3 separate regions of the Homo sapiens genome follow, and all the other regions are linked to region 1. The links come from fine-mapping of genetic effects on gene expression. A gene starts in region 1. Each other region holds a variant in brackets. All regions are shown on one strand. Distances are between the middles of the regions.

What was found.
Region 2: its variant is fine-mapped to the expression of CCDC77 in whole blood (TOPMed, PIP 0.97).
Region 3: its variant is fine-mapped to the expression of CCDC77 in whole blood (INTERVAL, PIP above 0.99).

The regions. Positions count from the first base shown.
Region 1 is chr12:398,158-406,343 of GRCh38, reverse strand. CCDC77 (coiled-coil domain containing 77) reads right to left here and starts at 4,700. Exons shown (of 13, transcript NM_032358.4): 1 at 4,660-4,700; 2 at 780-833. It overlaps LOC105369594 (a long non-coding RNA gene), which reads left to right and starts at 4,934. Exons shown (of 4, transcript XR_007063149.1): 1 at 4,934-5,026; 2 at 5,294-5,451. RefSeq lists enhancers at 3,890-4,442, 4,857-5,176.
Region 2 is chr12:242,925-251,110 of GRCh38, reverse strand. SLC6A13 (solute carrier family 6 member 13) reads left to right here. Exons shown (of 15, transcript NM_016615.5): 3 at 7,298-7,432. Among named protein-coding and RNA genes, the nearest start is that of SLC6A13, 16 kb to the left of the region's middle. The variant C/G (reference allele first, on the strand shown) is at 3,173.
Region 3 is chr12:284,166-292,351 of GRCh38, reverse strand. KDM5A (lysine demethylase 5A) reads left to right here. Exons shown (of 28, transcript NM_001042603.3): 28 at 6,690-8,186. The coding sequence ends at 6,896. Among named protein-coding and RNA genes, the nearest start is that of SLC6A13, 25 kb to the right of the region's middle. The variant G/T (reference allele first, on the strand shown) is at 4,114.

The DNA of each region.
Region 1 (8,186 bases):
TTTATCTATGTGGCTTACTCCCTCTCCTCCTTCAGGGCTAAAATGTCACTTTCTTGATGAAGTCTTCCCTGACCACTCTACCAACCTCATCCCTCTTCTCTGTTTTACTTTTCTCCATTAACACTTACAACCTTGGCTAGTTGAAGTGGCTCACGCCTGTAATCTCAGCACTTTGGGAGGCCAAGGCGGATAGACTGCTTGAGTCCAGGAGTTTGAGACCAGCCTGGGCAACATGGCAAAACCCTGTCTCTACAAAAAATTAGCCAGATGTGGTGGCACATGTCTGTAGTCCTAGTTAAACAGGAGGCCGAGGTAGGAGGATCGCCTGCACCGGGGGATCAAGGCTGCAGTGAGCCATGATCACGCCATTGCAGTCCAGCTGGGGTGACAGAGTGAGACCCTCTCTTAAAAAAAAAAAAAAAAAAAAGTTGAACACTTATAACCATCTAATATTTAATGTCTGTCTCTCCACACTGGAATATGCAAACTCACTAAAGGCAGCGGGTTTTTATCTATTATGTTCACTGCTGTATCCCTAGTAACATAAACAGTGCCTGGCTCATACTAAGTGTATATGTATATATATACAACTCTCAATATGAATTTGAAAGACTGTTAAACATCCTTTTCTTCTGCTGGCCAGTCTATTCAATCTAGATTTAAAAATCTGTTTCTGCTTCTCTCATCCCATTTGTTTTCTTCTACAGCCAACCCTTCAAATACGCCATCTTTCTTCTAATTCTCTCCTTTAAAAGACTACTCTCCTCCTCCAAACTCACCTCCTTCCAAAATACGTCTCCAAATTGGGTCAATGTGCCTCTTGTCCAAATAACCTAGAAAATAAAGTTATTGGATTGGCATGGAAGGATTATGGGTAACATTTTTTTAAAAAAGCAGCTTTATGGAATGTAATTTGTGTACACCATTAAACTCATTCAAAGTGTAAATTCAATGATTTTTAGTATATTCACAGATACGTGTACCTATCAGCACAGTCCATTCTAGAAGTTTCGTCACTTCAAGAAAAAAACCCTGTGTCCTTCAGCTATTATCCCTGTCTCCCAGTCCTAAGCAACCACTAACCTACTGTCTCTACAGATTTCCCTATTCTGGACTTTCCTATAAATGGAATCACATAGTATATGGTCTTTTGTGACTGTCTTGTTTCACTTAGCATAATGTTTTCAAGGTTCACCTATGTGGTACCATGTATCAGTACTTCATTCCTTTTTGTGGCTGAATAAAATTCCATTGTACGGATATGGGTGACAACTTAAAGTTAAATTTCACTGTTTCAAAGCCATTTAAGAGTAATTTGAAGCGGCTGGGCACAGTGGCTCCTGCCTGTAATCCCAGCACTTTGGGAGGCCGAGGAAGGCGGATCACCTGAGGTCAGGAATTCAAGACCAGCCTGACCAACCTGGAGAAACCCCATCTCTACTAAAAATACAAAGTTAGCTGGGCATGGTGGTGCATCCCTATAATCCCACCTACTCAGGAGACTGAGGCAGGAGAATTGCTTGAACCTGGGAGGCGGAGGTTGTGGTGAGCCAAGATCGCGCCATTACACTCCAGCCTGGGCAACAAGAGCGAAACTCCGTCTCAAAAAAAAAAAAAAAAAAGTAATTTGAAGCTTTGAAAGACCCTTCTAACAACCTGCAATCCCTCTTCTCCTTCATAGTGACTGTCCTCACTGTTGCACATGTCTACGAAAAGTTGTCTACACTCACCTCTCTGGCTGCAAGACGGGGCCTTGCTATGTTGCCCAGGCTGGCCTTGAACTCCCGGACTCAAACAATCCTCCTCCCTTGGCCTTCCAAAGTGCTGAGATTACAGGCATGAGCCACTGAGCCAGGCCTCGGGCTTCTACTATGACATCTAACCAAGCTCTTATTGGTCAGCAGACATCCAAATTAATAAATTCAATTGCTCTTTTCTGTTTCTATCCTCCTCCATCCAATAGTTACTCCTTCACTTGTATTCTTAATTAGATAGTGCCAACTACCTATTTATTTATTTATTTTTTGAGACAGAGTCTCACTCTGTTCAGCCCAGGCTGGAGTGCAGTGGCACGATCTTGGCTCACTGCAACCTCCACCTCCTGGGTTCAAGTGATTCTCCTGCCTCAGCCTCCCCAGTGGCTGGGATTACAGGCACCTGCCACTGTGGCTAATTTTTTTTGTATTTTTAGTAAAGACAGGGTTTCGCCATGTTGGCCAGGCTGGTCTCGAACTCCTGACCTCAGATGATCCACCCACCTCTGCCTGCCAGTGTTGGGATTACAGGCGTGAGCCACTGTGCCTGGTAGTGCCAACTACCCTTTAAAAATATATCACTTTGGGACCGGACCTTGGCATGGCCAGGCCATGGCAAGACCCTGTCTTTACCAAAATTTTAAAAATTAGCTGGGCACAGTGGCAATGTAGTCCCACCTGCTTGGTGCGAGGATCACTTCAGCCTGAGGGTTCAAGGCTGCAGCGAGCAGTGATCGTGCCACTGCACTCTAGCCTGGACAACAGCGCAAGACCCTGTCTCAAAAAACAATTAAAATAGGCTGGGCACAGTGGCTCATGCCTGTAATGCCAGCACTTTGGGAGGCCAAGGTGAATGGACTGCTGGAGGTCAGGAGTTTGAGACCAGCCTGGGCAACATGGTGAAACCCTGTCTCTACAAAAATTACAGAATTAGCTGGGAGTGGTGGCACGTGCCTGTAGTCCCAGCTATTCAGGAGGCTGAGGCAGAGGATTGCTTGAGCTTGGGAGGCAGAGGCTGCACTGAGCTGAGATTGCCCCACTGCTCTCCAGCCTAGGTGACAGAGTGAGACCTTACCTGGAAAAAATAATAATAAAAATAAATATTGCTTTGTAGTTGAGAATGTGGGCTCTGATATCAGACTTGGGTTTGAGTCAAAGCCCTGCCTCTTATTAGCTGTGTACCTCAGGCAAGTTATCCTCTCTAAATTTCAGTTACTTCTATGTCATAGGTTGGTGTACGGATATAAGGCCGAGGGACAGTGTTTGACACATATATAAGCACTCAGTAAATGTGGACTATTATTATTATTGACAATTTTACTCCCTTGGCTCAGAGGTTCTGTCTTCAAGTTTCTTTATCATTTCCTCTAACCATTTCTTTGGGAACATCATTATTCCTCCTGTTTTTATTATTAACTCTGTCATCTAAAACACTACATGGCATACAGTAAGTAACAATTACATGTTGAATAAATAAACGACATCTCTTTCAACCTCTTGATTTGAATTAACAAAAATGTAGTGGACATTTTCACCCATAGTCCCACTGGCACTTGAAACGTTTAACTTAAAAAAGAAATCACTCAAGTTAGGTATTTTTTTAGCATCTCAAAGCTAACATTTCCTAAACCTAACACATCATCTTTTTATCCAAACATGCCCCTTCTGACTTTCCTATTTTAGTTACTAATTCAGCGTTTCCAAGCAACCGGGAGTTGGCAACTTAAATTCATCATTTGATCACTCATTCTTCTGAACCTCCTGTCTAACCATATGAATATCTTGTATATTTTATCTCCACAATGACCATGTTAATTCAGAGTCTCAATACTTCTTACCCACACCATTACAACACCTTAACGGTTCTACCTACTCCTTGCGTCTCCTGGACCATTTTCTTTAATAAAATACATCAGTAGCACCTCATAGCCTAAAGCATTAAATCCAATTTGTTAGCCTAGAATTCATGGCTTTCTACATAAGGGCCAAACCTAACTTTCCTGCCTTATTTCTCTCTACTCTCCTAAATGTACCGTTTCCAGATAACTTTCCTGCCTCCATACCTTTGTTCATGAGCTTCCCTCTAGCTGGAACACAACTCCCTCCACAACCCTCATAATTTCACTTAACAAAATCTAGTCTGTACATGAAAACTCATCTTAAATACCACCTCCTTTTTCTCTTTCCTGAGTCTCCCCATCCAAAATGATTTAGCAAAAATGATCTAAGTGCAAAAGAACTGCCTTTGAAATTATCTACAAGTCAACATATTAGAGTGCTTTATTGCTATCGTTTCTCCCATGCTAGCGTGCGCTCCCTACAGACAGAAATCGCGTCTTACTCTTCATTGCCTCTTCCAAAGGAACAATGCCTTTGTTTATAGGTAAATTAACGGGTTTCAGCTAGGGTCTCTGCACCTATCTCCAATACCCTTGCTTAGATATATTCTTATAGCTTGTCTACTAACAATTAACATTTGTGTAGCACTTTGAATTTTTTTCTTTTAGCCACGTGACAAATCTGTACAATTTATTATCCCAACAACCGTTCAGTATTTTCACTATCCCTTATTTCACAAATGAGGAAACTGAGAGCTAGACCAGCGTGGGGTTAGAGTACACCGGAACGCATCTCCAGGGCGCCCGAATCCCGTACTCCTTTTCCCACTTCATCCCATTCTCGACCGCCTCACTGCTCCAGGTCCCAACGCTCCAGCACTCCTGAGGTCTCTCCCTTTGCACATTGGAGCTTTCCTCCTCCGGTCCCCAGCCCCTCCACGGACACCACATTCAGGCTCACGTCCTCTCCTCCGCACTGCTTCCGCAGTTACTTCTCCCTAACCAGATTTTCTTCCCAAGGCTTCTTACCTAACCCCTTCACCCCAAACCCGAAACTCTATACTCACGACACACTAAGACTCCGAGTCAGGGAACGCAACTGAAAAACAAAAGTCAAACCAAGGAGCGGCGCGGCGCCACTGAGCGTCCCTGAATCCGTGCAATCGCGAAGAAGTTTACATGGCCCTTTGGAATGCGCACCAATGGGAAGGGCCTTCACACAGAGGCCCGCCCCCATCTCGCCCCTCCTCGCGGTGCTCCCGACCGCGCAGAGGTCTCTGGGAAATGTAGTTTTCTTCTGCCTGGAGCTCTGCGCGGGGCGACGCAGCTGGGCTGCAACCCGCTCCTCCAGGGACGGGTAGTGTGACGTTTGGGGTCAGAACGCACCACTTTCGGGCACCCCCACTTAAGATTGCTCAACTGCTTTGAGCTCAGGTACTTCGCGTTCATGGTACATATATGTTGTAATTTCCAAGCTTGTCTCAAGAGATAAAGATTCTAAGAAAAGTTTCTTCTTCCATGACCGGGTGGCCTAGAGCCAGGATAGGACCTGAGGTTCAGTTTCTACGGTCAGGGGACTATGTATTAAAATTCTACTATTTGTTCCATAGCAAACACTGCTTCCTTTTCCGGAGAAATGTAAGACACTGGGCTTTAATGATAAAAGCAAGTTCAAAATCCATTATGGTCTTATCTTTCCAGAAAGCAAGGTGTAAAGGTGGGGGAAAAGCACTTTCGTCTCAGAATTACAGCTACTGGTATGGAAAAGCTGGGGCCCTTCGCTGGTGTGAGTCCTAAGGATGTCTAAATGGAACGTGCATCTGCTACAGGCTCGCACTTTCCTTTATTGCGCTTCCCAGGTAACTGTTTTTACAAATGTAAGGTTTGTGGCAACTCTGCATGGAACCAAATCTATCTGCGCCATTTTTCCTACAGCACAGGCTTACTATGTGTCTCTGCACCACATTTGGTAATTTTCACAATATTTCAAACTTTTTCATAATTATTGTATATGTTATGCTGATCTGTTATCCTTTATATTACTATTATAATTGTTTAGGGGCACCATGAACCATGCCCATATAAGATGGCAAACTTAATTCATAAATGTTGTGGATGTTTTAACTGCTCCACAGACCAGCAGTCTCCCTGCCTTTCTCCCTCTCTTCTTGCCTCCTTATTCCTGTGATACAACAATATTGAAATTAGACCAATTAACAATCCTACAGTGGGGGTTCAAGTGAAAGGAAGAGTCACACATCTCTTACTTTAAATAAAAAGCTGAAAATGATTAAGCTCAGTGAAAAAGGCATGTTGAAAGCCAAGACAGGATGAAAGCCAGTCTTCTTGCACCAAAGTTAGCCAAGTTGTGCATGCAAAGGAAAAGTTTTTGAAGGAAATTAAAAGTGCTACTCCAGTAAACACAAAAATGATAAGAAAGTGAAACAGACATTGCTGATATAGAGAAAGTTTGAGTGGTCTGGATAGAAGATCAAACCAGCCACAGCATTCCCTGAAGCCAAAGCCTAATCTGGAGCAAAGTCCTAACTCTTCAATAAAATGAAGGCTGAGACAGGTGAGGAAGCTGCAGAAGAAAAGGTGGAAGATAGCGGAGGCTGGTTCGTGAGGTTTAAGGAAAGGAGCTATTTCCGTTACTTAAAAGTGCAAGGTGGAAGCAGCAAGTGCTGATGTAGATGCCGCAGCAAGTTATTCAGAAGAGCTAACTAAGGTAATTGATTAAGGTGGCTAAACTAAACTACAGACTTTTGATATATATGAACCAGCCTTTTATTGGAAGGAGATGCCAAGTAGTACTTTTGTAGCTAGAGAGAAGTCAATACCTGGCTTCACAGCTTCTAAGAACAGACTGACTCTCATGTTAGGGGCTAATGCAACTGGTGACTTTAAGTTGAAGCCAGTGCCCATTTACATCCCTGAAATCCTAGAGCCCTTAAGAATTATGTTAGATATAGTCTGCCTGTGCTCTATAAATGGAACAACAAAACCTGGATGACAGCATATATGTTTATAGCATGGTTAACTGAGTATTTTAAGTTCACCGTTTTATGTATGTTTTATTTTAAGTCCTACTGCTCAGGAAAAAAAGGATTTCTTTCAAAATATTACTTCTCACTCACAATGCAACTGGTCACCCAAGAGCTCTGGTGGAGGTATGCAAACAGATGAATGTTGCTTTCATGCTTGCAAACACAACAGACATTCTGCAGCTCATGGATCAAGGAGTCATTTTGACTTTCAGGTCTTATTAAGAAATATATTTCAGGCCGGGCACGGTGGCTCACATCTGTAATCCCAGCACTTTGGGAGGCTGAGGTGGGCGGATCACCAGGTCAGGAGATCGAGACCAGCCTGGCCAACATGGAGAAACCCCCGTTTCTACTAGAAATACAAAATTAGCTGGCCATGATGGCGCATGCCTGTAATCCCAGCTACTCAGGAGGCTGAGGCAGGAGAATCACTTGAACCTGGGAGGCGGAGGTTTCAGTGAACTGAGATCGTGCCATTGCACTCCAGCTTGGGCAACAAGAGTGAAACTCCGCCTCAAAAAAAAAAAAATATTTCATAAGGCTATAGCTGCCAGACATAGTGATTTCTCTGGTGGATCTGGGCAAAGTAAATCGAAAACCTTCTGGAAAGGACTCACCACCATTCTAGATGTCCTTAAGATCATTTGTGACTTGGCTTGGTGAGATGTCTCACACCTGTAAACCCAGCACTTTGGAAGGCCAACGTGGGTGGATCACTTAAGCTCAGGAGTGCATGACAAGCCTGGGCAACATAGAAAACCTTGTCTCTATAAAAAAATACAAAAACTAGCCAGGAGTGGTGGCATGCACCTGGCTACTTGGGAGGCTGAGGTGGGAGGATTGCTTGAGCCTGGGAGACCAAGGTTGCAGTGAGCCGAGATTGTGCCACTGCAGTCCAGCCTGAGTGACAGAGCAAGACTGTGTCTCAAAAAAAAAAAAGTAAAAATATATTTAATAAAAAAATTTTAAAAAGAACATTTGTGACTTATGGGAGGAGGTCAATATCAATAATAACAGGAGTTTGGAAGAAGTTAATTCCAATCCTCTTGGATGTCTTTGAGGGGGTTCAAGACTTCATGGACGAAATAACTGCAGATGCTGTGGAAGTAGCAAGAGAACTAGAATTAGAAGTGGAGCCTTGGGAGGCTGAGGCAGGAGAATCGCTTGAACCCGGGAGGCAGAGGTTGCAGTGAGCCCAGATCGCGCCACTGCAGTCCAGCCTGGGCAACAGAGCAAGATTCTGTCTCAAAAAAAAAAAAAAGTGGAACCTGAAGATGTGACTGAATTGCTGCAATCTCATGATGAAACTATGGATGAAGAGTTGCTTCTTATGAATAAGTAAAGAAAGTGGTTTCTTTAGCTGGAATCTACTCCTGGTGAAGATGCTGTGAACATTGCCAAAATGACAACAAAGGGTTTAGAATATTCCATAAACTTAGTCGATAAAGCAGTTGCAGGGTTTGAGGATTGACTTCAACTTTGAAAGAAGTTCTACTATGGGTAAAATGCTATCAAACAGCATTGCATGCTACAGAGAAATCTTTCAT
Region 2 (8,186 bases), 160 kb after region 1:
GATCTCAGCTCATTGCAAGCTCCGCCTCCCGGGTTCACGCAATTCTCCTGCCTCAGCCTCGCGAGTAGCTGGGACTACAGGTGCCCACCACCATGCCCGGCTAATTTTTTGTATTTTTAGTAGAGACAGGGTTTCACCGTGTTGGCCAGGATGGTCTCGATCTCCTGACCTCGTGATCCACCCACCTTGGCCTCCCAGAATGCTCCCAAAATGCCTCCCAAAAAGAAATGAGCCACTGCGCCAGGCCCTGTTTTTAGGTTTTTTTTTTTTTTTTTTTGGGGGGCTATTTTGGGTCCTTATCATTTCCAGATGAATTTTAGAAAGAATTTGTGAATTTCTACAAAAAAGTCTGTTGTGCTTTTGATTAGGATTGTATTAAATCTATAGATCAATTTGGAAAGAATTGACATTTTAATGATATTAAGTCTTCTGATCCTGAATATGGTATGACTCTCCATTTATTTAGCTCTTCATTAATTTCTCTCAGCAATGTTTTGTAGTTGTGAGTGTACATATATCTTTCACAACTTTTGTCAGATTTATTCCTAAGTATTTAATATTTTTGATGCTATTGTAAATGGTATTATTTCCTACATTTTAATTTATGGTTGTTTATTCCTAATACATACACAATTGATTTGTGTATGCCCATCCTGTATCCTGCAAACTTGCTAAACTCACTGATTGGTTCTAATAGGTTTTTTTTTGTGTGCATTCCAAAGGATTTTCATTGTAGAATATCATGTCTTCTGAGAATAAAGCAGTGTTATTTTTTCCTTTTAAATCGGAATAACCTTTAATTCCTTATCTTGCCTTATTGGCTAGATTCTATGGCTAGAATCCCCAGTACAGTATTGAATAGAAGTAGTAAGAATAGACACTTGTTTTATTCTCAATCTTAGCAGTCTTTTACAATTAAGTATGATGTTAGCTGTAGGGTTTTTTTGTAGATGCCCTCTATCAAGTTGAGGAAGTTCTCTTCTCCTCATCATTGCTGGGAGTTTTTATTAGGAATGACTGTTGGATTCAGTCAAATACTTTACTGTACCTATGAAATGATCATATAGTTTTTCTTTTGTAATTTGTTAACAGGATGAGTCACATTATTTATTTATCCATTTATTATAACAGCTGGAGACTACAACACTATGTTGATTTTTTAAAATGTTAAACCCACTTTGTATCTCTGGGATAAACATTACTATATAATATATTGTCCTATTAACATATTGTTAGATTTGATTTCCTAAAATCATTTAGAATTTTGGCATTTATGTTCATGAAATATGTTGATCTTTAACTTTCTTTTCTTATAATGTATTTGTCTGCTTTTATTATCAGGGTAATGCTCACTTTATAAAATTGGTTGGGTAAGCATTCCATCTTTTCAATTTTTTGGAAGAGTTTGTGTAGAATTGCTGTTATTTCTTCCTTAAATATTTGGAGGATTCACCACTGAAGTCATTTGAGCCTGGAAATTTTTGTGGGATGGGTTTAAACCAAAAATGAATTTTCCTTAATAGTTATAGGGCTATTCAGACTGTTTCTTTTTGAGTGGGCTTTGGTAGTTACGTTTTTTATTTTACCTAAATTGTTGCACTTACTGGCATAAAGTTCTTCATATCTTTTCTTATTATTGTTTTAATATCTATAGAATCTTTACTGAGGATACATCTCATTTGTCATGCTGATAATTTGTGTCTTCTAAAATTTTATCAATTTTATTATCTCAAAGAACCAGCTTTTGGTTCATGGATTTTCTCTGTTGCTTTCCTGTTTTCCATTTTATTGATTTCCACTCTGATTTTTATTTCCTTTGACTTACTTTGGCTTTCATTTGCTCTTATCCTTCTCATTTCTTTCTTTCTTTTTTTCTTAACTACACCCTCATTTCAGCAATAATTTCTGATTTCTTAAGGTGGAAGCCGAGGTAATTGATTTGAAACTTTTCTTCTTTTATCATTTAGTAAATCTCCTAGGTACTGCTTTAGCAGTATGCCACAAATTATGATACTGGGTTTCATTTCATTCCATTCAAGATACTTTCTAATTTCTCTTTTGATTACTTCAGTAGAGCCATAGGCTATTTAGAAATGTGTTACCTAATTTCCAAATAGGTGGCAATTTTCCAAATGTCTTTCTCTGATAGATTTCTAATTTAGTCAGAGAACCAATTTTGTATTACTTGGATGCTTTTAAACTTACTGAGATTTGATCTCTGGTCCAGGATATGGGCCCATCTTGGTGGAATATTCCATGTTCATTTGAAACTAATGCATATTCTGCTGTTGGACTGTTGGGTAGAATGTTCAATAAATGTCAACTAAGTTGAGCTGGTGGATATAATTTTCAAATCTGTTATATCCATACTGATTTTCTGTATACTTATTCTATAAATTATTGAGAGAGGGCTATTAACGTTTTTAACATTTATCAGGAATTAGTTTATATGTTTCTCTTTGTAGTTCTGTCAGTTTTTGCTTCGTGCATTTTGAAGCTCTGTCATTAGGTGAATATGCACTTGAAATACTGATTGATTAATTGACCCTCTTGATTAATTGACCCTTTAATCATTATGAAATTACCTTCTTTACCCTTGGTAATATTCTTTGCTCTGAAGTTTACTTTGTGTGACATTAAGATAAACTTTACAGATTTATTTTGAGTAGTGTTAGCATGGTATATCTTTTTTTTTTTTTTTTTTTTTCCGAGACGGAGTCTTGCTGTCGCCTAGGCTGGAGTGCAGTGGTGCAACCTCGGCTCACTGCATGCTCCGCCCCCCGGGGTTCACTCCATTTCTCCTGCCTCAGCCTCCCAGCATGGTATATCTTTCTATCCTTTTACTTTTAACCTCTTCATGTCTTTTTTATTCAAAGTGCATTTTCTTAAGGCAGCATATAGTTGAGTCTTGTCAGGTTTTAAAAGCCAGTCTAACAATCTCTGCCTTTTATTTGGGACGTTTAGACCATTTGCATTTAATACGATTATCCATGTAATTAGGTTTAACTCTATCATCCTATTATTTGTTTTCTCTTTGTCCTATCAGTTATTTGTTTCCCCCTTCCCTCTCCTCCTGCTTTTTTTTTGGAATAATTGAATATTTTTTCTTATTCCATTGTTAGCTTTCTTCTTTTTGTTGGCTTATTAGCTGTAACTTTGTTGTGTTATTTTA[C/G]TGATTGTTTTAAACTTTGTAGTATACATCTTTAACTTATCACACTTTATCTTCAAGTGATAATGTACCACTTTATATATAAGAACCTTAAAATATTACAATTTCATTTCTTTCCTCCTAACCTTTGTGCTCTTCTTATACATTTTTATATGTTATAAAATCAATATTACATTGTTTTTATTTTTGTTTAACCAGTCAATTATCTTTTAAAAAATATTTGAATAATAAGAAAAACATTCTCTATGTTTATCTATGTAATTACTATTTCTAAAGCTTTTTATTACTTTGTATAGATTCATATTTCTATCTGGTGATATCATTTCATTCTCCCTGAAGGAGTTTCTTCCACATTTCTGGTAGTTCAGTTCTACTTGTGGTAGATCCTTTCAGGTTTTGCATGTCTTAAGAAACAGTTATTTCACTTTCCTTTTTGAACAGTATTATTGCTGGGTATAGAATTCCGGGTTGACAGCTTTCTCCCTCCTCCTTTATTGCTTCAGCAAATGTGCTTCCTTATCACTGTCTTCTCTTTTGCATTGTTTTAAATGAGAAATTTGATGTTATTCTTATCTTTGTCTGTACATATGTGTCGTTTTTCTCTGGTGACTTTTAAGGTTTTCTCTTAAAAGCTCCATATTCCGGTTTAAGTAATGTGATTATGATGCACCTTGGACTAGTTTTTTTTCATTTTTTTTTTAATCTTGGTGTTTGTTGAACTTTTTGGATCTATAGGTTTATAGTTTTCATAAAATTTGTAAAATTTTCAGCTATTATTTCTGTAAGCTTTTTCTCACCCTTTTCTTTCTTTCACAGACTCCCATTACATTAGGCTTTTTGAAGCTGTCTCACCACTTAGGCATACCTGTTCTTTTTAAAAAATTTCTTTTTTCTTTTCTTTCTTTCTTTTCTTTCTTTCTTTTTTTTTTTTTTTGAGATGGAGTCTCACTCTGTCACCCAGGCTGGAGTGCAGTGGTATGATCTCAGCTCACTGCAACCTCCACCTCCCAGGTTCAAGTGATTCTCCTGCCTCAGCCTCCCAAGTAGCTGGAATTACAGGCATGCACCACCACACCCAGCTAATTTTTGTACTTTTAGTAGAGACAGGGTTTCACCATGTTGGCTGGGCTGGTCTTGAACTCCTGACCTCAGGTGATCCACCTGCCTCGGCTTCCCAAAATGCGGGGATTACAGGCATGAACTACCATGCCCAGCAAAAATGTTCTTTTTTCTCTCTGTGTTTTATTTTAGATAGTTTCTATTATGGTTCAAGGTCACTGATCTTTTCTTCTGCTCTGCCTACTAACATTAATCCCATCCAATGTATTTCTTTAAATCTCACACACTGTAGTGTTCATGTTCAGAAGTTTTATTTGGGTCTTTTTCAATATCTTTTATATCCCTAACTTTTGGAACACTTGCAATACAGTTATAATAACTTTTAAATATTCTCATCTGCTAATTCTAACATCTTTGTAAATTATGGGTCAGGTTCAATCTCCTTGCTATGAGTAACATTTTCCTGATTCTTTGCTTTCCTGGTAATTTTCGATTGAATACCAGACCTGGTAATATTTTTGCTTTATGGGTTGCTGGATAATTTATTTATTTATTTATTTATTTTTGAGACAGAGTCTCACTCTGTTGCCAGGCTGGAGTGCAGTGGAGCGATCTCGGTTCACTGCAACCTCCATCTCCCGGGTTCAAGCAATTCTCCTGGTTCAGCCTCCCAAGTAGCTGGGACCACAGGCACATGCCACCATGCCCAGCTAATTTTTGTATTTTATTTATTTATTTATTTATTTATTTTTACTTTTATTTTTTGAGATGGAGTCTTGCTCTGTCACCCAGGCTGGATTGCAGTGGCACAATCTCGGCTCACTGCAACCTCCGCCTCCTGGGTTCACGCCATTCTCCTTCCTCAGCCTCCCAAGTAGCTGGGACTATAGGCACCCACCACCACACCCGGCTAATTTTTTTGTATTTTTAGTAGAGATGGGGTTTCACTGTGTTAGCCAGGATGGTCTCGATCTCCTGACCTCATGATCCACCTGCCTCAGCCTCCCAAAGTGCTGGGATTACAGGCTTGAGCCACCGCGCCCAGCTAATTTTTGTATTTTTACTAGAGATGGGGTTTCACCATGTTGGCCAGGATGGTCTCGATCTCTTGACCTCGTGATCTGCCTGCCTTGGCCTCCCAGAGTGCTGGGATTACAGGCGTAATCCACCACACCCTGCCTTTTCTTTCTTTCTTTTTTTTTTGCGACAGAGTCCCACTCTGTTGCCCAGGCTGGAGTGCAGTGGCACGATCTCGGCTCACTGCAACCTCTGCCTCCCAGGTTCAAGCAATTCTCCTGCCTCAGCCTCCCAAGTAGCTGGAGCTACAGGTGCGTGCCACCATGCCAGGCTAATTTTTGTATTTTTAGTAGAGACAGGATTTCACTATATTGGCCAGGCTGGTCTTGAACTCCTGACTTGGTGATCTGTCCACCTCAGCCTCCCGAAGTGCTGGGATTACAGACGTGAGCCACTGCACCCGGCCAATTTCGTATTTCTGTAAATATTCTTTAGCTCTGTTCTGGGATCAGTGAAGTTACTTGCTCTTTTTATATCTTGCTTTTAAGATTGGTTAGGTAGCAATAGAAGTGTGCTCGGTCTAGGGATAATTATTCCCCGTTACTGAGGAAATGCCCTTCTGCGTACTCTGCCTAATGCCTGGTGAATCTTGAGATTATTTACTCTGGCAGTGTGTGAGCACCATTACTTTTAATCATTTTGAATGGTTCTTTCCCTCACCTCAGTTTTCTCACACATATGCACTGACTAGTACTCAGTTGGAAGCTTGAGGGGGACCCTCTGCAGATTCTCCTGTCTGTGCAGTTCTGTCTTCTCTGGTACTCTGTGTCCTATGAACTGTGCTGTCCACTTTGCCAGCAGATGACAGGTCCATGGTAGGGAAAATACCAGTATATCTGGCATCAGTAGTCTTGTCTCCGCCAATGCTTATAAAAACAGAAGGAGACAGATTACTAGCTTAGTTCATTTTGTGTTGCTACAACAGAACACCTGAGATGGGTAATTTATAAGGAACAGATATTTATTTATTATAGTTTTGGAGGTTGGGAAGTCCAGGGCAAGCAGTCCACCTCTGGTGAGGGCCTTCTTCTTTGTGTCAGCCCATGGCAGAAGGCAGAAAGGCAAGAGAATATTCATATAAAAGACAGAGAGCCAAATACACTTTTTTTTTTTGGACAGGGTCTTGCTCTGTCACCCAGGTTGGAGGGAGGGCAGTGGCACAATCACAGCTCACTGCAGCCTCGAACTCCCAGGTTTAATCAATCCTCCCACCTCAGCCTCCCGAGTAGCTAGGATTACAGGCACACACAGCCATGCCCAGATAATTTTTTGTATTTCTTTTAGAGACAGAGTTTTCCCATGTTGCCCAGGCTGGTCTTGAAGTCCTGGGCTCAAGCGATCCTCCCACCTCAGCCTCCCAAAGTGCTGGGATTACAGGCGTGAGCCACTGTGCCTGGCCCAAACTCACTTTTATAACAAACACAGTCTCACAGTAATAACATTAATCCATTCATGAGGGCAGAGCCCTCATGACTTACATCTTATTAGGCTCCACGTCCCAACACTGTTGCATAGGGAATTAAGTTTCCAACCACGAACTTTAGGGGATACATTCAAACCATAACAATGACTGAAAGGGCATCTGATTTCAGCTTACTAAAAGACTACCTGACGTTAAGAGCAATGCTTTCTTTGAAAAGAATTATAGACTGTGGGCTGTGCCAATGCTCCTAGACATCCATTATTTAATAAGCTCCTTGTTATTGCCACAAGTTATGTGTTAAGCAGTAATTGTTCAGTGGGGAACAAACTTTAATAGGTATAGACTGAAACTGCAGTGAAAAAAGGCAAGAGGCTGTGTAGATCTTAGATAATGGGGTGACTCTTGATCTCTGCTATGTTCCAAACATCTAGACAGCTGTCTCCTGCAGTTTTGCATGTTCTCTGCCTCCGAGATTCTGACTGGCAGTATGGGTTGGTAATGGGAGGAGGTGAATGCAGACCATGAGGAGAATAGTCCCAGGAAATGAACAGCCTGTTTTCTAACCACAGGTGCCTTCTTCATCCCCTACCTCGTCTTCCTCTTTACCTGTGGCATTCCTGTCTTCCTTCTGGAGACAGCACTAGGCCAGTACACTAGCCAGGGAGGCGTCACAGCCTGGAGGAAGATCTGCCCCATCTTTGAGGGTGAGTAGCTCTGTACCTGACTCCAAAGCGTCTTCATTCGTGGTTATAAACCTTGTTTGGAATGACTTGAGTGATTAGTAGCAGTTCTGAGGTTAAGATAAGATCCCGAGTCTCTATGCTAAACCCTTGGTTTGTGGGCTGCATACTGAGCTAGTCAGCTGATCTATCAGAGAATGGGCAAGAAACAGCAGTGAGGATGGGGCAGAGGCTTTAGGTTAGGTAAGTAGAGTGCAAAGCCACTTTAGCCATATGTTTTAAACACATAACAATGTTGTTGTATTTTAAGACATATTTAAATCAATTATAAACATTTTAAAAGAGAACTTTAAATGAGAAAAAATTATTTCATTCATAGTTCTATCTTGGCCGGGCGTGGTGGCCCATGCCTGTAATCCCAGCACTTTGGGAGGCCGAGGCAGGTGGATCACCTGAGGTCAGGAGTTCGAGACCAGCCTGGCCAACATGGTGAAACTAAAATACAAAATACAAAAAATACAAAAAATTAGCCAGGCATGGTGGTGGGCACCGGTAATCCTAGCTACTCAGGAGGCTGAGGCAGGAGAATCTCTTGAACCTGGGAGGCAGAGGTTGCAGCGAGCCGAGATTGCACCACTGCACTCCAGCCTGGGTGACAAGAGCAAAACTCCATCTCAAAAAAAAAAAAAAGTTCTATCTTGACACAAGTATTTAAAATTTACAGTATTTAATTTCATTATTTCTCCATATATAGGATTTTCTTTACGTTTTTATTTTG
Region 3 (8,186 bases), 110 kb after region 1:
CAAATTGCATTAAGATGGTATTCCAAAGACTTGAAACTTTTAGTCCATATCTTACACTCAGAGCTGTGGGCACCCTCCTAAATGGAATATGATTTTCTTCAAATCTTTTGCAACAAATAATTCAAACCTATAAATGCATTATTTTAGGCCAGGCAAGGTGTGGCTCACGCCTGTAATCCCAGCACTTTGGGAGGCCGAGGTGGGCGGATCACCTGAGGTGAGGAGTTCGAGACCAGCCTAGCCAACATGGTAAAACCCCATCTCTACTAAAAATACAAAAAATGAGCAGGGTGTGGTGGCGGACACCTGTAATCTCAGCTACTTGGGAGGTTGTGGCAGGGGAATCGCTTGAACCCAGGAGGCAGAGGTTGGAGTAAGCCAGGATGGCTCCATTGTGCTCCAGCCTGGGCCACAAGAGCAAAACTCTGTCTCAAAAAAAAAAAAAAAAAAGCATTGTTTTAAAATTTCCAACCCTAAATTTTAAGTATAGTAATTCTCTTATGGCCGTTCTTTAAATATAATGTTGACAGTATGAACTTCTGAGAGTAATAGTCAGACTTTATGAAAAATTCCAGTTGTTTAAATGATTGGAGGCACCTGTTACGGCTCTTATCAAGAATATTGATAAATCTGTAGTTTTAATTTTATTATGCTCATTATACTATTTGATATTTAGAATTCTAATAGTGCCTCAGTTTGAAAATATAAACAGTAAATAAAACTGCATCACTGTTCCCTATAGGTTATGCCCTCACTTTTTCAATGAAATACTTAAACCTTTTTAGAGCTTGAAGGCACCAACAGGTTACTTTGTTCAGGCTGCTCATTTTACAGATGATGCAACCAGGACTCAGGGAAGGTAATTATGTGACCAAAGTTACAGAGCTAGTTAGTAGCAAAACCAAAAGTAGAACCCTAGATCTTGGCTGTCAGACCAGGTTCTCTCCACTAACACCTTACCCCATCAATAATTGAGATGTAAGTACAAAAACACATTCCAAAACTAAATGACACATATTTAAATGAGATGTATTAGGGGTATTCTATTCATTTTTTGGAATGTGCATAGTAAAATATATATCCTATAGTCTAATCTTCCAAGGCAGACAGCTATAAATATTTTAGTGTTTCCTTCCAATTTTTTTCTATGGCGTTTGTTTTATATCATTGTCAGACTGTTTACTGACTTGCATCTGTTCATTTTATAAGCATCTTCCTATATTATAAACATTTTAAAGCATTTTAATATATATGTGCATATTATTTTTATCTTTAATTTTGAATTTATTTCCATCTGAGTTTGTTTGTTAAAGAGGCTGATGAAGAGTTAACTTTCTCTTTGGGTATCAAAGTGTAGCAGTTCATTATTGGCAGAACCTTCTCCCTTTTCTTCCTTAATTTTATGGTAGTTTAAAGACTAGCAGCAAGGTAGGATGTTTCCTTTTTAAACTTTCCTGACATTCTTTCTATAATGTTTACATCTATCATGAGCCTTTCGTCTTATTTTTATACTCTTTCTCCTTATCACTTAATCTTTCCCCTCCCTTCTGCTCAGCATTTAAATAGGATTCAGTTCATCCATTATTCCTGTTGTCTTCTTATAGCAATATAAACACTTAGGCCGTTTTTTTTTTCATTTGCTATGAAATTGTCAAATTAACAGGTGCCCTGCCTATTCAAAGGGTTATGATGATAAGACAAAACAATCTCTATGAAAGCACTTGTTAACCAAAAAATGCAACGTAAGTGCTAAGATGTGATCATTATTTTTGAAGGAACTGTGAGATTTGCTCCTAATATTATAGGTATTTTTTAAACAAAATCTTTAAACAAAATCTAGAGTTATCATCTACATTTTGATGGAGCAAAAGGAGATTTGGCTGAGTGCTCAGAGAAAATGTCTATTTTGAACTGTTACGATACGTAAAGGTGAGCAACGTGTGCCCCACCCTATGTTGTTAGTTTATATAAAATAGTGTTTTATTTCTATAACGTGTTTCGTTTTAAGCAGAAGTTATTTCAGATTATAGATATTTTGCCTGTTACTGCTGTTTTGCAGTTTTTATGGTTCTACATGTTTGTTCCTGACATTGATTTTGCTAAATAAAAGTTACAGTTCTATAAAAATTTCTGTAAAGAATGTTAAAACTTTCTCAGTGTTTAGTGTTTCTCTGAGAAAACAATTAATATACAGCACACATCTTTAGAGCAAAATAAGAAAAGAATGCCTTTGCCAGCTGCAGTGGCCCATCCTGGTAGTCCCAGCTACTCAGAAGGTTGAGACAGGAGGATTGCCTGAGTCCAGGAGTTCAAGGCTATAGTTAATGTGCTATGATCGCACCTGTGAGTGCCCCACTGCACTTCAGTCTGGGCTACACAGGAGACCCTGTCTCAAAAAGAAAAAGATTGGCAAGATGATGTAAAAAAAAAAAAAAAAAAAAAAAGAAAGAAAGAAAAAATCATGCTTTTTAGCCCAGTTTGTTCTTTAAGATACCATGCAGCAAAAAATAACTTCCAGGGTTCACTTGTTTTTAGGTGAATTCTCTGACCAGTAATTACTATTATTTCTCTAACTAATAATTACTGGGACTTTTCCCCCAAAATATGCAGATTAAATTTTTTTTTTTTTTTTTTTTTGAGACAGGGTCCTACTCTGTTGCCCAGGCTGGAGTGCAGTGGTGTGGTCATAGCTCACTGCAGCCTTGATCTCCTGGGCTCCAGCAGTCCTCCTGCCACAGCTTCCTGAATAGCTGGGACTACAGGCACACACCACTATGCCCACCTCTTTTTTTGAGAAATGCTCTTTTAAAAATTAAAAGAAAGATTAAATGAGGCTAGTTAAATGTGCCTAGCCTCAGTTTCAAGATGTTTTAGAAAAAGGAAGACAATACCAGAATAATGTAAAAGATTTTGAAAAAATAATTTTTCCTTTGATTATTAAATTAATGTCAAGCTAAAATTAATATTAACAAAACTTTTTAAAAAATTAATTTTGAAGTTCAGAATCTTTTTGTCTCTGAACTCTTTATTCAGTCTTATTGGTACCAAAGATAAAACAAGTTAACTAGAAAAAATATCAAATTCTCTCAGGCTACTAATTTAAGTAGTATTTTTCTTCTGTATTAGAATAAATATTTAATAATTTTACTTATGAAAATAGTCTTTTTCTCTTCACTTTTTTTAACCCTCTTATTGTTGGCCTTTTCCTTTACCCATTCCTACTTCCATGAGAAGTTTTGTGTGGTAAATTAAGAGACTATGAACTCTCATTTTTACTATTTATTAGCCACTCTGATTTAAGATTTTCATGGGGGTGTTGCCTCAATCAAAGTATTTGCATTTCCAGCGGCTTTACTAGTTCATATCTCCTTTTAGCACAGATAAGCAAAGGTTAAGTTACCTAAATGTGTGTAATACACACACACACGCGTGCACGCGCATGATGTTGAGCTAGAGTGACTAACTGTCCCAGTTTCCCTGGGACTTTCCCAGTTTTGGCACTGAAATTCCCACATGCTGAGAAATCTGTCATTCCTTGGCAAATTGGGAGGATTGGTCACTGAATATTGAGAGCACCAAGAAAATATACACAAGGATTCTGAACATATGTTGTAGTTCACTTAGTGAATTGTTTTCCTTTTTCAAATCCAGCTTTTGCTAGGAAACTTGGGGTGCAAAAGATATTAAATGCCAAAATAACAAAAGCTCAGTTTAATTAGTAAGCTAAGAATATCACTAAATTACCAGATTTTCTTTTTTCCCAGTGCAGTACTATTCTCTAAGAAATGAACAAAATATACTATGCCAAATATTTTTTATTAAGTGTGAATATGAAACCATACAGCAAAACATGAATATTAAACTAATATTTCCTCTTTTTAATATATTTCTTTTTGAAACAGACATTTCCCCCAGATCTAAACATAGTAACCTATTTGTACTGTAATGTAAAATCTCCTATCATTTAATATTTGAACAGTTCATAGCTGTGAAGTTTAGTAATTATTTTTGTGATTCACTAAATACATCTCCTAGAAATAATGAAAGGGGGGGAAATGACAATTTATACAGTTATCCAAATTCTGTGTTCTTGAGTTTTCAGGATACTACATA[G/T]TCTGTTGCCCCTGTGTCAAAATCATCTGTGGATTCAGTTGACATCCCAAACTTTAGTTTGCTTTATGTTGCTGTGGGCCTTTCACACAAAAGTAGAACTCAGAGTTGATTGTTAGTAGATGAACATGATAAAAAAGATATTGGTAAAGAGAAGGACTATTTTTTGCTTGTTCTATTATCAGGCTAAATTGTTATATAACCTGTAGTCTAGGTTAGAATTTGTGTACCAGTATCTCAAGGAAGGTTATATACTCTTTTGAAATGGTAGAAGATCTGGGCTTAGGAAGGGACCTTTAGTCAAAATCACAAAAGGGAAAGTATTGTCTTATTTGTAAGAGAATTTTGGGAAATTGTAAGCCAGTGAGTATAGTGCAAACACTAGATTTAAAAAGACATGGGACACTTTTCTTTGTAGCAAATACTGATACATTAATAACATTCTTATCCAATGGATTAGCATGAATGGGGACTAGACTGGATTAAGAAAGAGGGTTGGAGGTGTAAGGGTGAAGGTAACTGTTGGTTCACAGGTACCATTATAAAAAGCATGGTATCTCAAACCTGGGCAGCACAGAGAACCACAGTTTATCTATCCAGTTCCCTTTACCAGTCCCAAACAGCCAAAACACTCACTCTGAGTGCACGTACTCTACAGCTAGCATTTTGTGTTTTTACTGCTTGCAGTACTTTAATTTTTACATTTTGCACAGATGCCATTATTTCCCCCTTTTTTTTTTTTTTGGTCTCTGATTAGTTTGCTACAATAGGAACATTTTGGTGAGTTTTTTTATTGCACAGACTTCAGAAGCTAAACAATCAATTACAGAACAAAAATCAGTTTAGGAAGGTATTGTTAAGTTGCTCTGAATTTACAGGAAGTGATATCACAGAGGGCCAGCAATGATCGGATTTAGAATATATGAGAATCACTTGGGAGCTGATTAAAAATGTAAGCTTCTGGCTTGTACTCCCCAGATATTCTGAGTTCATAGGGTGATGGGTCCCAGCTACATTTTAAACAAACACAATAGATGATTCTGATGCCAGTGGTCTACACACTTTGAAAAGCAGTGCTGCCGACAGTTGTATCAAGGTGCAGAACGTTTTGTGTAGTGTAGGGTAATGAGTAGAGCCATGAGACCATGACTGGAAAGTGCCTCCAGTATCCTGGGCAGTGAATTAGGTGTTTTGCCATACATTATTTCATTGGATCCTCTCGGTAATCTTGTAATTAATGTCATCTCCATTTTCAGATGAGGAAATTGAGTCACTCAGGTTAAATGACTTGCCTGAAATGATACACACTGGAACTCAGAGCTTCTGAGTTGAGTAATCTTGATGTTAACACAATATTGTCTCTTAAGATCTAGAACTTTAGCATAGGAACAAAACAAGTAGAATATCATTTTGACAAATTATTTTTCCCACCCCTTATTACAAGCCTAAAACTACTGACGTGACTACTGTGGTTTTGACAGTTTTTTATAGGACATGGAAACTAATTTTGAAAACTACTCAGTTGCTATGAATGAAACTCATTTACCTAGCCAAAACCTCCTTCATCTGTTCTTTCTCTTAAGTTGTATAGAGGTACTTCTTGGATCCCTTTCTATTCCTTACTTTGATATCTGGTAAAGCTCATGGTTTTAAGTGGCTTCTTAACGTTACCAATGAAATGACCAACCTTGGTATTGAGGTGAGGAAGAGTAGCTCTTTTCATCTTAAATGTTCTTGTCTGCCATGACATTAGCTGTAAAAACTACCACAATCAGCCTTCAAATATAAAAGCCAAAAGTCACTTTATTGTTAACTCTTAAGTCCAAGGCTTAAAGTCACCAAACTACAATCCCTTCCTAGCCTCCTGTAATCACAGTATTGTCAGAAGGGTCAAAGTTTGACACCTGCCACTGACCTATCAGTTTTTCAGATTTTAATTTTAAACCCCAGAGTGATCTATTGACCTGTGTCTTTGACTGTTATAATTGGTTAATTTGTAAGATTTGACATCTGATATTTGCTAACTTTTTATAGGGAGTTGTATTTGTAACGGAAGAAGAGAAGAATAAAAAATATTAGTTTTAAAAGTGGCCTATGTGACTGCTTTTCTAAAAAGGTATTTAATGCTCTTAGTACTTTGGCTTATCTCTTTGAAATAAAGCTAATACACAGGATTGCCTTCACATTGTTGTACTCTTCCTTTCTTGATTGATAATTGCATTGTCTTAGAGCCTAGAAATTGTTAATATTAGCTAAAACTACTTGGCTGCTCTATTAGAAGTTCCCTTTTTGTCAAATTTTTCTCAAACATGTTTCTGCCTCACAAGGAGCCCCAGGTATTCATGAGGTAATGGAGTACCTAAGAGGCCTAATTTTGTGGACACACTATGGTGAAATATAATTTTGGGGTATTAACTTCTCAGCTTCTTTCTTTAAAAAATAACCCCATAAGAAGTCATTGCCTATCTAGACATCCCAGTTGTTTGCTATTGTTTAAGCCAAGAAAGCTCTTTGGTTTGCTTTTATTCTAGGCTTAATGTTTATGTAACCTAAACATTCCCCAATCTTGTTTCCTACAGGTAGACTGGGTACAATGTGATGGTGGCTGTGATGAGTGGTTTCATCAAGTTTGTGTGGGTGTATCTCCAGAAATGGCTGAAAATGAAGATTACATCTGTATAAACTGTGCAAAGAAGCAGGGGCCAGTTAGCCCAGGTCCAGCACCACCTCCTTCCTTCATAATGAGCTACAAACTACCAATGGAGGATCTTAAAGAGACCAGTTAGCAGATGCTTGGTTAGTTTGGGACATGGGGGGACATGGACCACATTGAGACCTTAGTCATCAAGTAGAGTGGTTTATATCCACTTGGAATGTTGCTTCCAAAGATGAATGGCCTTCAGAGAAAGTCCCCTTAGTGCTGGCTTCCTCTTTGCATGGACTCTGTGGGTTACATTCTCTATCAACATATCTATGCAGAGGGTGTCTTCTTTGGTACAACAGCCAATATTTCATGTCTCCTTTGAGTGTGGTTTACTGCATTAAGGCCAGATGCTTAATTGAGCTCTAGGGTGGCTGGTTAGTATTAATACATTGGTGTGCTAACAGGGCATATAGGATGTGGCTTTTGTCCAGCTGATAGTAGTTAGAGGCTTACAACTTAGGAGCAGCACCAACTGAAGGTGCTAATTGCTTGGATCTCCTTCATTGGGATAGTTGGAGAGGGATTGGAGTACCACTTTCCTTCCACTGTTACCTGGTACTTAATGCCCTAAAGATACAACTAGGAGTAACAGGGCCAAAGTTATTTCTGTTAGACGTCAAGGAATGGTATCACAGTCTATTGACCTCAGCGATTTGTGCTTGTTTGTGCTAGAAGAACATCCCAAATAGGAGAACCTCTCACAAGCTGGGGCAGGTCACCTTATCTTTGTAAGATGAGGATATCATCTAGATCAGAAATCTGACTAGATTGGATTCTGAGGAGAAGAACCTACTACAAGGCAAGGAGCCGTTTTTTGGCTTTGAAAAGTCTTGCTGTCTTGGGTCTACATTTTAGGGAAGAGCAGGTACATGGATCCAGGCTTCTGCCAAAAAAAAAAAGAGAAGAAGATGACGATGATGACCAGTCGTACTATCTTACTGAGCCACAGTGATGCATGCTTTTCGGGGAAAACTTCATTCACAAGTATTCCAGACACCAGGCTTCAGGCATGGCCATGAGCAAGACCAGCAAATAACAGCTTTTTGCCTTGCAGCCCTGACCCCAATGTCTGCTGTTTCCAACACTGGTGATTTCTAACTACGGCCCACAGCAGATGCTGTTGAATAACACCATGGCTTCATCAGAGGATGTGGGGTTGTAGTACCTCTGGGTGATGAAGTTGTTTTAGTAAATCCATTTTTAAAAAAAAAAAAGGACTTGTTTTTACTTTTTTCTAAATGTCTCTGACTACTGACTGTTCTATACATAGATTATTTTTCCTTTTTTAATATACATATATGAATATATAAATATATATATTTACTGTTACCAGCAGCATATGACAGAGTTTCAACATCAAAAATCCATTTGG